Regions from separate parts of the Homo sapiens genome. Here regions 2 and 3 are each linked to region 1. Evidence: fine-mapped expression QTL. A gene starts in region 1. Each other region holds a variant in brackets. All regions are shown on one strand. Distances are from middle to middle. Region 1 holds the start of TSPAN14 (tetraspanin 14). Region 2 overlaps TSPAN14 (tetraspanin 14). Region 3 overlaps TSPAN14 (tetraspanin 14).

Region 1 (2,752 bases):
GCCTCAGCTGTCTTGTTCACTGAAGTATCCCACCATGCACACAGGGCCTGGCATATTATCAGGCACTCAGACAAACACTCACTATCTGCTGAATGAATGGACAGGTTCCCAGGGAGTTTCCAGAGCTGCCTGGGCTGTCACAGACAGGTTGCATCCCTCTTAATTAAACAAACAAATAAAATTAGCCAGGCACCGTGGCTCATGCGTGTAATTCCAGCACTCTGGGAGGCAGAGGCGGAAGGATTGCTTAAGCCCAGGAATTTAAGACCATCACTGGCAACACAGCAAGATCTCGTCTCTACAAAAAAAAAAAAAAAAAAATTAGCTAGGTGTGGTGGCCTGCACCTGTGGTCCCAGCTACTTGGGGAAGCTGAGGCGGGAGGTCGAGGCTGCAGTGAGCCATGGTCATGCCACTGCACTCCAGCCTGGGTGACAAAGCGATACCTTAGCTCAAAAAACAACCCAAACAAACCTGGGAATGGACTGAACAGTCTCCATTTCAAGATTTCCTCCTTCCATTGGAATTAACCTGTTGGTTGCTTGTACTGGCATGTGGCAACCAGTCTTAGCCCAGTTTTAATAGATCCCTGTTTGGTGTTACTCAACAGAGAAGACCACTCGGCCCTCAGCCACCGAATAAGTTTAAGAAACAGAGGTGTGGCATGCTTCATTCTACAGGTAGGGAGGCTGAGGCTGGGGAGCCGCCCCTGGCTATCCCTGGAAACCCCTCTACCCCACAGGAATCGTCCCAGCCATCTCTTTAGCGTAAAGGTGAGGAACAAATCTCAGCCACGATCCAAAGAGGGGCGCCACCCCTGGCTGTCCCTGGAAACCCCCCTACACCACAAGAATCGTCCCAGCCACCTCTTTAGCGTAAAGGTTAGGAAGAAATCTCAGCCACGATCCAAAGAAAGCTTGGTATTTTTAGCACCAAGGCCAGAAGGAGCGTGTCCTTACTCCTTGGTTTACAAAGAAATAAAAACCTTTTCCCCATCCTTCTTTTGATTGAAGACTACCCCCGCCCCCAGGCTCCAAAGCCGGGCAGGAACGCCTCTTATCTCCACCACAGCCATTTTCCTAATCCTTCGCCCGCTCTCCACGGTCATCCCGTGTATCCCTCGAGACGCCGCCTCCCACAGCTCGTGCTTCTCCCAGGTTCGGCTCCGACAAGGCCAGAGCGGCGTCTGCGCAGCGCAACGGCTCAGAGCGCTCCCGGCGGCTACAAGTGCCCGGCCCCGGGCCAGGCCCGGCCTGCGCCGCGCACCCACTGGGAGGGCGCGGACCGGGGCCGCCCCAAGCCTCCGGCACCGCCCAGAGCGGGACAAAGGGGCGGGCCGGCGACCCGGCCTCGCGGTCCCCGGTGCCGCGCGGGCCGGGAGGCGGGGTGCGGTGGGGGAGGGGCGAGGCGGCTGGGGGAGGGGCGGGGCCAGGGCGGGCCCAGGCGCCCGGGGCCGCACCGGGCGGCGCAGGGAAGCGGCGCCCCTTCCTCGGCAGACGGCAGGCGCCGCGCCTCCGGCCCCGCCCCTCCGCGCCCCTCCGCGCCCCGCCCCCGCCGCTCGGACGGCCCGAGTCGCGCCCTCCCGCCCCGCGCCGCGGAACTTGCTCTAACTTCCTCGGCCGAGCCGGGCCGCGCCGCCGCTGCCGCCGCCGCGCGCGGGTGAGTAGAGCGCGGAGACCTGGCTGGGGCGTCGGGCCCTGCCCCTTTCTTTGTCTGAGGCCGACTTCCCCGAGCGTTCTCCGGGGGCGAGGGCTGCTCCTTAGGTCCCTGTTTGGCCCCTCAGCCTCCCTCCCCGCCTGCCCAGGAGCGGCCCCGCGGGCGGCGCTGGCTTTGTCTGCCAGGATTGCTCGCTAGAGGTTGGAGGCCTCCGCCGGGACCCCGCTGAGCCGAACTCCGGCGCCGCGCGGACGAGAGCCGCGGCGGGCCCGGGGCCGGCACTCCTGGTTCGGTAGCCCTCGCCCCATCAGCGCGCCCCGGCGAGTGCGCGCCCGTGCCGGGCGGGGTGAGGGCGACGGGAGCCTGGACGGCCGCTGCTGCTCGGGGCTCTGCTTCTCGTCCCCAGCAGCGAGCTCGGGGATGGGCCACCCTTTCGGCTCAGTCACCCACCCTCGGCTCCCAGGAGATCGGGTCCGGGGTGGGGGTGGGCGTAGGCCGGGGCGGGCCGCCCCTTCCTCCTGCCCCGCCGTGGTTGTGCTCAGTCTCCCACGCCGCCGTGGGTCCCACTCTGCCCGGCTTGGGTTTGGGACGGCCGGAGTTTGAGTAGGCGGTGACCCAGCTTCTCCGCGTTAGTCGTGTGGGGTTGTGTTTGGGAGCAAAGCCTGACCCCTGACCTAGCCGGAGTTCTGGTAGAGTGAGGTTTGTGGCTGCGGACTGTGCTTGTCCCGGGCCGCTGCTGCTTCTCCTCCACCCCCAGGGGTGGGGTGCGGGTGGGTAGGAAGTGCCTGTGTGAGGGTGTGTGGAGGGACTTTGGCCCTGGGACCGCAGGAGCACTTGTCTTGGGGACTTAAAGTTGATCTCCGGCGAGAAACAGTCCGTGCTAGGGGGAGTCGGGGGAAGTCGTGGGCCCGGGTACTGGCCTGGGGCTGGGCGCAGAGCGGTGGTGAGTGCGGCGGTGTCACACACTCGTTGGCTGTGCTGGCGCTGCTATCCGGGAGGTCAGGCGGTGCTGGGCGGCTGTGCAGAGCATTGTATTGGAGCCTCTGCAGGTGTGCTCTTGGCAGTGGTCTGCTCTCCAGGGGATCTTCCTCCCTTCCG
Region 2 (2,752 bases), 30 kb after region 1:
TTGCCCAGCCAGCCAGTTCACTTTTCACACTTATGAATTGTTGAGATATTTTACAGTTGAGAATGTGCTACTTTTTTAATTTAAAAAAGGGCAGGAGGGAGGAATATTAAAGGTGAGTACAACACTGAAGCCAAGGAGCCCTGTTTATGATGACTGCCAGCCTTATATATTGTAGCAAGCATTCTCCTTCCCAGCAGGGGCACCTCCAACCAGCAGCGGCCCCATTTTCATTTATAATACAAAGGTGGTAATGGTAAGTGTGATGCTGGAAACCTTTTTGGAAAATCACTTGTAAGTCCACCACCACCCCATGCAGCCATTTTCATGCTCTTAACATTCCACTTTGGCCTTTAAGCACATGCTTACAAATTGTCTCATAATTGCAAACCATGAGGTTCATGTTTCACTTAATGTGTATTCTTTTTCTGGAGGCAAATTCTTAGTCATTAGTTTATTGATTAAGGGTGTGACCTTTTTTTGGGTGGTAAATGTAACCATATTGCTACCAAATGGTAGTAACCGTTTCATCTGCTGCCAACAAGGAATAAATGTGTTTGCCACAATAGTGGTGGCAATTTTGTTAAATTAAAAAGTGTAAAGTAGGCCGGGTATGGTGGCTTATGCCTATAATCCCAGCACTTTGGGAGGCTGAGATGGGCAGATCACCCAAGGTCAGTAGTTCGAGATCAGCCTGGCCAACATGGTGAAACTCCTGTCTCTACTAAAAATACAAAAATTAGTTGGACATGGTGTCGGTCGCCTGTAATCTCAGCTACTCAGTAGGCTGAGGCAGGATAATCACTTGAACCCGGGAGGCGGAGGTTGCAGTGAGCCAAGATTGCACCATTGCACTCCAGCCTGGGCAACAAGAGCAAAACTCTTGTCTCAAAAAAAAAAAAAAAAAAAAAAAAAAAAAAAAAAAAAAAAGTGTAAAATAGGCCAGGCACGGTGACTCACGCCTGTAATCTCAGCACTTTGGAAGGCCAAGGTGGGCGGATTGCTTTGAGCTCAGGAGTTCAAAACCAGCCTGGGCAACATGATGAAACCCCGTTTGTACAAAAAATACAAAAATTAGCCAGGCCTGGTGGCATGCACCTGTGGTCCCAGCTACTCCAGAGGCTGAGGCTAGAGAATCACTTGAACCAGGGAGGCGGAGGTTGCAGTGAGCTGAGTGCGCCACTGCACTCCAGCTTGGGCAACAGAGCAGGACTTGTTTAAAAAAAAAAAAAGTGTAAAATAGTATATCTGGGTTGTCTTTAAGTTTTATTTCTAGTGACATTGAAAATTTTTCCTTTTTTTT[A/T]AATTTTTTTATTTTTTAAAGACCGGGTCTTGCTCTGTCACCCAGACTGGAGTGCAGTGGTGTCATCACTGTTCATCACAGCCTGGACCTCCCAGGCTCAAGCGATTATCCCGCCTCAGCCTCCCACGTAGCTGGGACTTCAGTCACCACACCCAGCTAATTTTTGTACTTTTTGTAGAGATGGTGTTTGGCCTTGTTGCACAGGCTTATTTTTCCATTTGTTACGTTATTCTTCCCTTTGTTATTCTTTCCTTTGTGTATAATGTTCATATCCTTTGTTCATTTGTGTACAACGGGGGTCTTTTTGAAGTATGGGTCTCTATAGGTTGCAGATATTTACTGTGTCATAATTTTTTCAGCTGCAGATAACATTTGTGTTTCCTTTTTTATTTTAATGTTACTTTTATTCATGGGGATTTTTTAGATTTGTTATCTGTTCAGGCTTGGTAGTCTTGTGCTTTGAATTGTTTTTTCCTGTTGCCTCAAAAGTTGAAGGTGGGTAAAATGGACTTGAAAACCCTGTTCTCTGGGTGTGGTGTGTGCATGTATGTGCATATGCCCTTTAAATCTGTAAGTTGTTATTTGCTTATTATTTAACTCCCCTCAAGTTGCTAACCAGTTATCTCACTACTGTTAAACAATTCTCCCTTTGCCCTGTTTTGAGAAGTTGGTATTTTGATAAACATGTGCCTCCTTCCTGCCACACTGATGCTTTATTTTCTATCACATTCTTAGAGTTGAGACAGTTTGAGATCCTAATTTTTTTTCTAGGCACACAAAATAGCTTTTGGAGATTCTTCTCTGCTGGAATGGTACCTAACATTTGTGAAAAGTTTACCCATCTCTACTTTTAGGAAGGTTCTTAGTCATGCGTGCGTGTGTGTGTGTAAGATAAAGAGTGTTGGTGTTCTTTGTGGATGCATCTGCTCATAGAGGGCTAACTTCTGCCTTCCTTCAGTATGATGTGGTTTAGCAAATGAGGTGAGATGCTAGGGACCATGGTCATTTTGGGAATCATTTTGGGTCAGATCTGGGTTCTAGTTTCAGCACTACTGCCTTTATCAGCCTTCCTGCATTTTTGTGTAAATGCCCTAGTAGCTCCGTTGGTGGCTCAGGAGCGCTCAGTCCTTTTTTCCTCCCTTGGGGTTCTGAAGCCTCCGAGCCATACCTGTTGTGCAGCTCCATCATTACCCCTCCACAGTCAGAAGGCCACCTTACACTGTGTAGGAGGATGTGGCTTAGGCTGGAGTCCTAATGAGTCTCCCATTTACCTTCTTCAGCTTAAACTATGTGGAGACCAGGATCTGCCAGCCCCACAGAGGGTCAGGACCTGCTTTCCAACCCGCTGGCCAACACAGCAGAGAGGGACAGATTGAGAGGTGCCTTCCCTCCCTGTCCCGAGGTTAGGTGGGTGGCAGGGGTGGGAAAGCGGGGAGCGGAGAAGGAAAACTG
Region 3 (2,752 bases), 47 kb after region 1:
GTAATTCAATTAGGTCATGGGAGGGAGACAAAGAAGGTCACTTGAGGCTGGAGGGCACTCAGCTGAACCCTCACTCCCAGAAGATTGGCAGCCAGGGCTCACAGCAGCCAGGGCTTACCTGGCCTGGCCCCATGGACCATCTGCTGCAGAGTTCCAGGGAAGGGTTCCGTGGGGTGAAGCGGGCCAATGACCCAGTTCATTCATGGGACCGTTATGTGAGCTCTCAGGCAGATCACTTCCCCTGTCTAGTCCTCCCTCAATCTCCTGGTCTCTGAAACCAGGTTTGTTGGTACTCAGAGTTCCTGCCCTGGGCCACTGTTCATTGAACCCATGATCTGACATGTGATCCCCAAGTTCCTGTCTTTCCGGTGTGAGTTAACTTTAGTTCTTCCTTTAAAACAGAATGAAAACAACACAAGGCCTTATTCTTTTTTTTTTTTTTTTTTTTTTTTTTTTTTTTGAGACGAAGTTTTGCTCTTGCTGCCCAGGCTGGAGTGCAATGGCGTGATCTTGGCTCACCGCAACCTCCACCTCCCAGGTTCAAGTGATTCTCTTGCCTCAGCCTCCTGAGTAGCTGGGATTATAGGCATGTGCCACCACGCTCGGCTAATTTTTTATTTTTAGTAGAGATGGGGTTTCTCCATGTTGGTGAGGCCGGTCTCAAACTCTTGACCTCAGGTGATCCGCCTCCCAAAGTGCTGGGCCTCCCAGCACTCGGCCTCCCAAAGTGCCGAGATTTCAGGCATGAGCTACCACGCCTGGCCAAGTCCTTATTCTTAGAGCTGAGAGAAAGAGAACTGCACGCAGTGGTGGGGAGCTGGCTTCCCCAGTAAACACAGAGTCAGCCAGGGCTTTCCCTGGGGGCCTTGAGAAGAACAGCAAGCGAGGGAGGGTGTGGTCTGTGGGCCATATGCAGAGCGGTAAGCGGCCCTACAGCGGCCCTGCATGTGGGGAAGGGGCGATTGGAACAGAGGTGAGCAGGAGCAGGCCTACCTTTGCATGGGCACTGTGCCCCTGAGGGTGGGGATATGAACTGCTCTTGAGGTCGAGGGTCTTTTTTGAGAACTTGTGCAGACCAAAATTCCTTTTGTGAAACCAGTCACCTCTTCCTATTGTATCTATTTAGTCACTATTTAGTCACCTAGGAGAACAAAACAACTAAAACAGCACCTCAGCGTGAATTCACAGAAACCTATTAATATAGATGGAACTGACGCT[GT/G]TTTTTTTTTTTTTCTTTTTTTTTGGGAGACCTGGTCTTACTCTGTTACCACCCAGGCTGGAGTGCAGTGGTGCAATCTCACCCTTGACCTCCCAAGTTCAAGCAGTCCTCCCACCTCGGCCTCCCTGGTAGCTGGGAATACAGGCATTTTTTTTTTTACAGCTAATTTTTTTAGAAAACCTTTTTTTTTTTTTTTTTTTTAAGAGATGGGGGTCTTGCTATGTTGCCCAGGCTGGTCTTGAACGCCTGGGCTCAAGCAATCCTCCTGCCTCAGCCTCCCAAATTGCTGTGAGCCACTGTTCTCAGCCTGAGGCTGGTATTAATGTGGGAAACAATACCCTTAGAAGTCAGACTTAGTAGTCAAGGTGAGAGAAGGGGTGAGCTGTGAAGTGCAGTGTGGAGGAGAGAGGGGAGCTCCAGCAGTGGTTTTGTTGAGTGTCCTTAAGGTAGACTTTTCTCACCTGTCCCATGTGGCCCCACAGGATGAGCGGACTGTCATGGAAAGCTGTTAGGCAGGGGCTGGAATGTCTGTTGGGAATGCTGGATGGGGCATCGGCCTCTGGGCTTGTTCTGCTCTGACCATAGGCAAATGCCCCTGTATAGAGCTTGACCCATGCACCTGGGCCAGGCTGAGCTTTTCTTGGCCCACATTTGCTCTGAATGCCTTTGGATTGAATCACACCCAGAAGTGTGCCTGGGGGTAGCTAGAAGGACCCAGGCAAGCACTGTCCTGGTCTTGAATCCTGGGGAGTCACTCATGCCTGCTCTGTGCCTACTGAGGGCCAAGCCCTCCTCGTTGTTGGGCTGCAACTCTGAACAAAACAGGTAACATCTCTGGCCTCAGAAGGGCTTAGCTGGGGAGACACAATAGAGAGACAGCCCCTGTGGTCTGGGATCAGTGCCGCGAAGAAAATCAACAGAGGAGGTCACACATGGAGGATGGGGAGCAGTTCCACTCAGGGTGGTAAAAGGAGGCCTTGAACGCAGTGAGGGAGGAGCCAGGAATGGATATGGAGGAAGAGCATTGCCGGCTGAGGGAACAGTGTCCAGGCTCTGAGGCAGGGGTGATTTTGATGACTTCAAGAAACAAGAATGTCAGGGTGGCCCAGGGAGTGGCGTTGGAGCAGGGAGGTGGGAAGGAGATGCCGTGGGAGATGTGTGTGAAGCCTGGCTGCAGAGGCCCTTGGGGGCCATGGGAGAGACCGTGCATTTTCTTCTAGGTCTGCGTGGGAAGTCACTGCAGAGTTTCGAGGAGGGGAGTTCCCAGCTCTGTATTTTTGAAGGGTCAGTCTTGTTGCTTGGACCAGTGAGGAGCCCCGTGGGATCCAGACTCGAGTGGGTGGAGCCGGGGCAGGTGGGAGCAGAGACACTGGAGGAAAGCTGGTCGAATGCACTGTGTATTTGGAGGCAGAACCAGCAGAGGGTCCTCTGGGTTGAGTGTAGGGCAAAAGAGAAAGAAGGCACCAAGCCTGGGGTCTGGGTTTTCTCTCTTACACTTGCTGGGTGGACGGTGGTGCCACTGAATGAGACGGA

The links.
Region 2: its variant is fine-mapped to the expression of TSPAN14 in whole blood (INTERVAL, PIP above 0.99).
Region 3: its variant is fine-mapped to the expression of TSPAN14 in whole blood (INTERVAL, PIP above 0.99).

What each region holds. Positions count from the first base shown.
Region 1 is chr10:80,452,715-80,455,466 of GRCh38, forward strand. TSPAN14 (tetraspanin 14) reads left to right here and starts at 1,596. Exons shown (of 9, transcript NM_030927.4): 1 at 1,596-1,657. RefSeq lists enhancers at 952-1,161, 1,905-2,422, 2,372-2,631, 2,662-2,711 and a silencer at 1,192-2,241.
Region 2 is chr10:80,483,025-80,485,776 of GRCh38, forward strand. All of the region lies in intron 1 of TSPAN14 (tetraspanin 14), which reads left to right. Among named protein-coding and RNA genes, the nearest start is that of TSPAN14, 30 kb to the left of the region's middle. The variant A/T (reference allele first, on the strand shown) is at 1,301.
Region 3 is chr10:80,499,887-80,502,638 of GRCh38, forward strand. The region is part of intron 2 of TSPAN14 (tetraspanin 14); the gene reads left to right. Among named protein-coding and RNA genes, the nearest start is that of TSPAN14-AS1, 35 kb to the right of the region's middle. RefSeq lists a silencer at 1-241. The variant GT/G (reference allele first, on the strand shown) is at 1,219.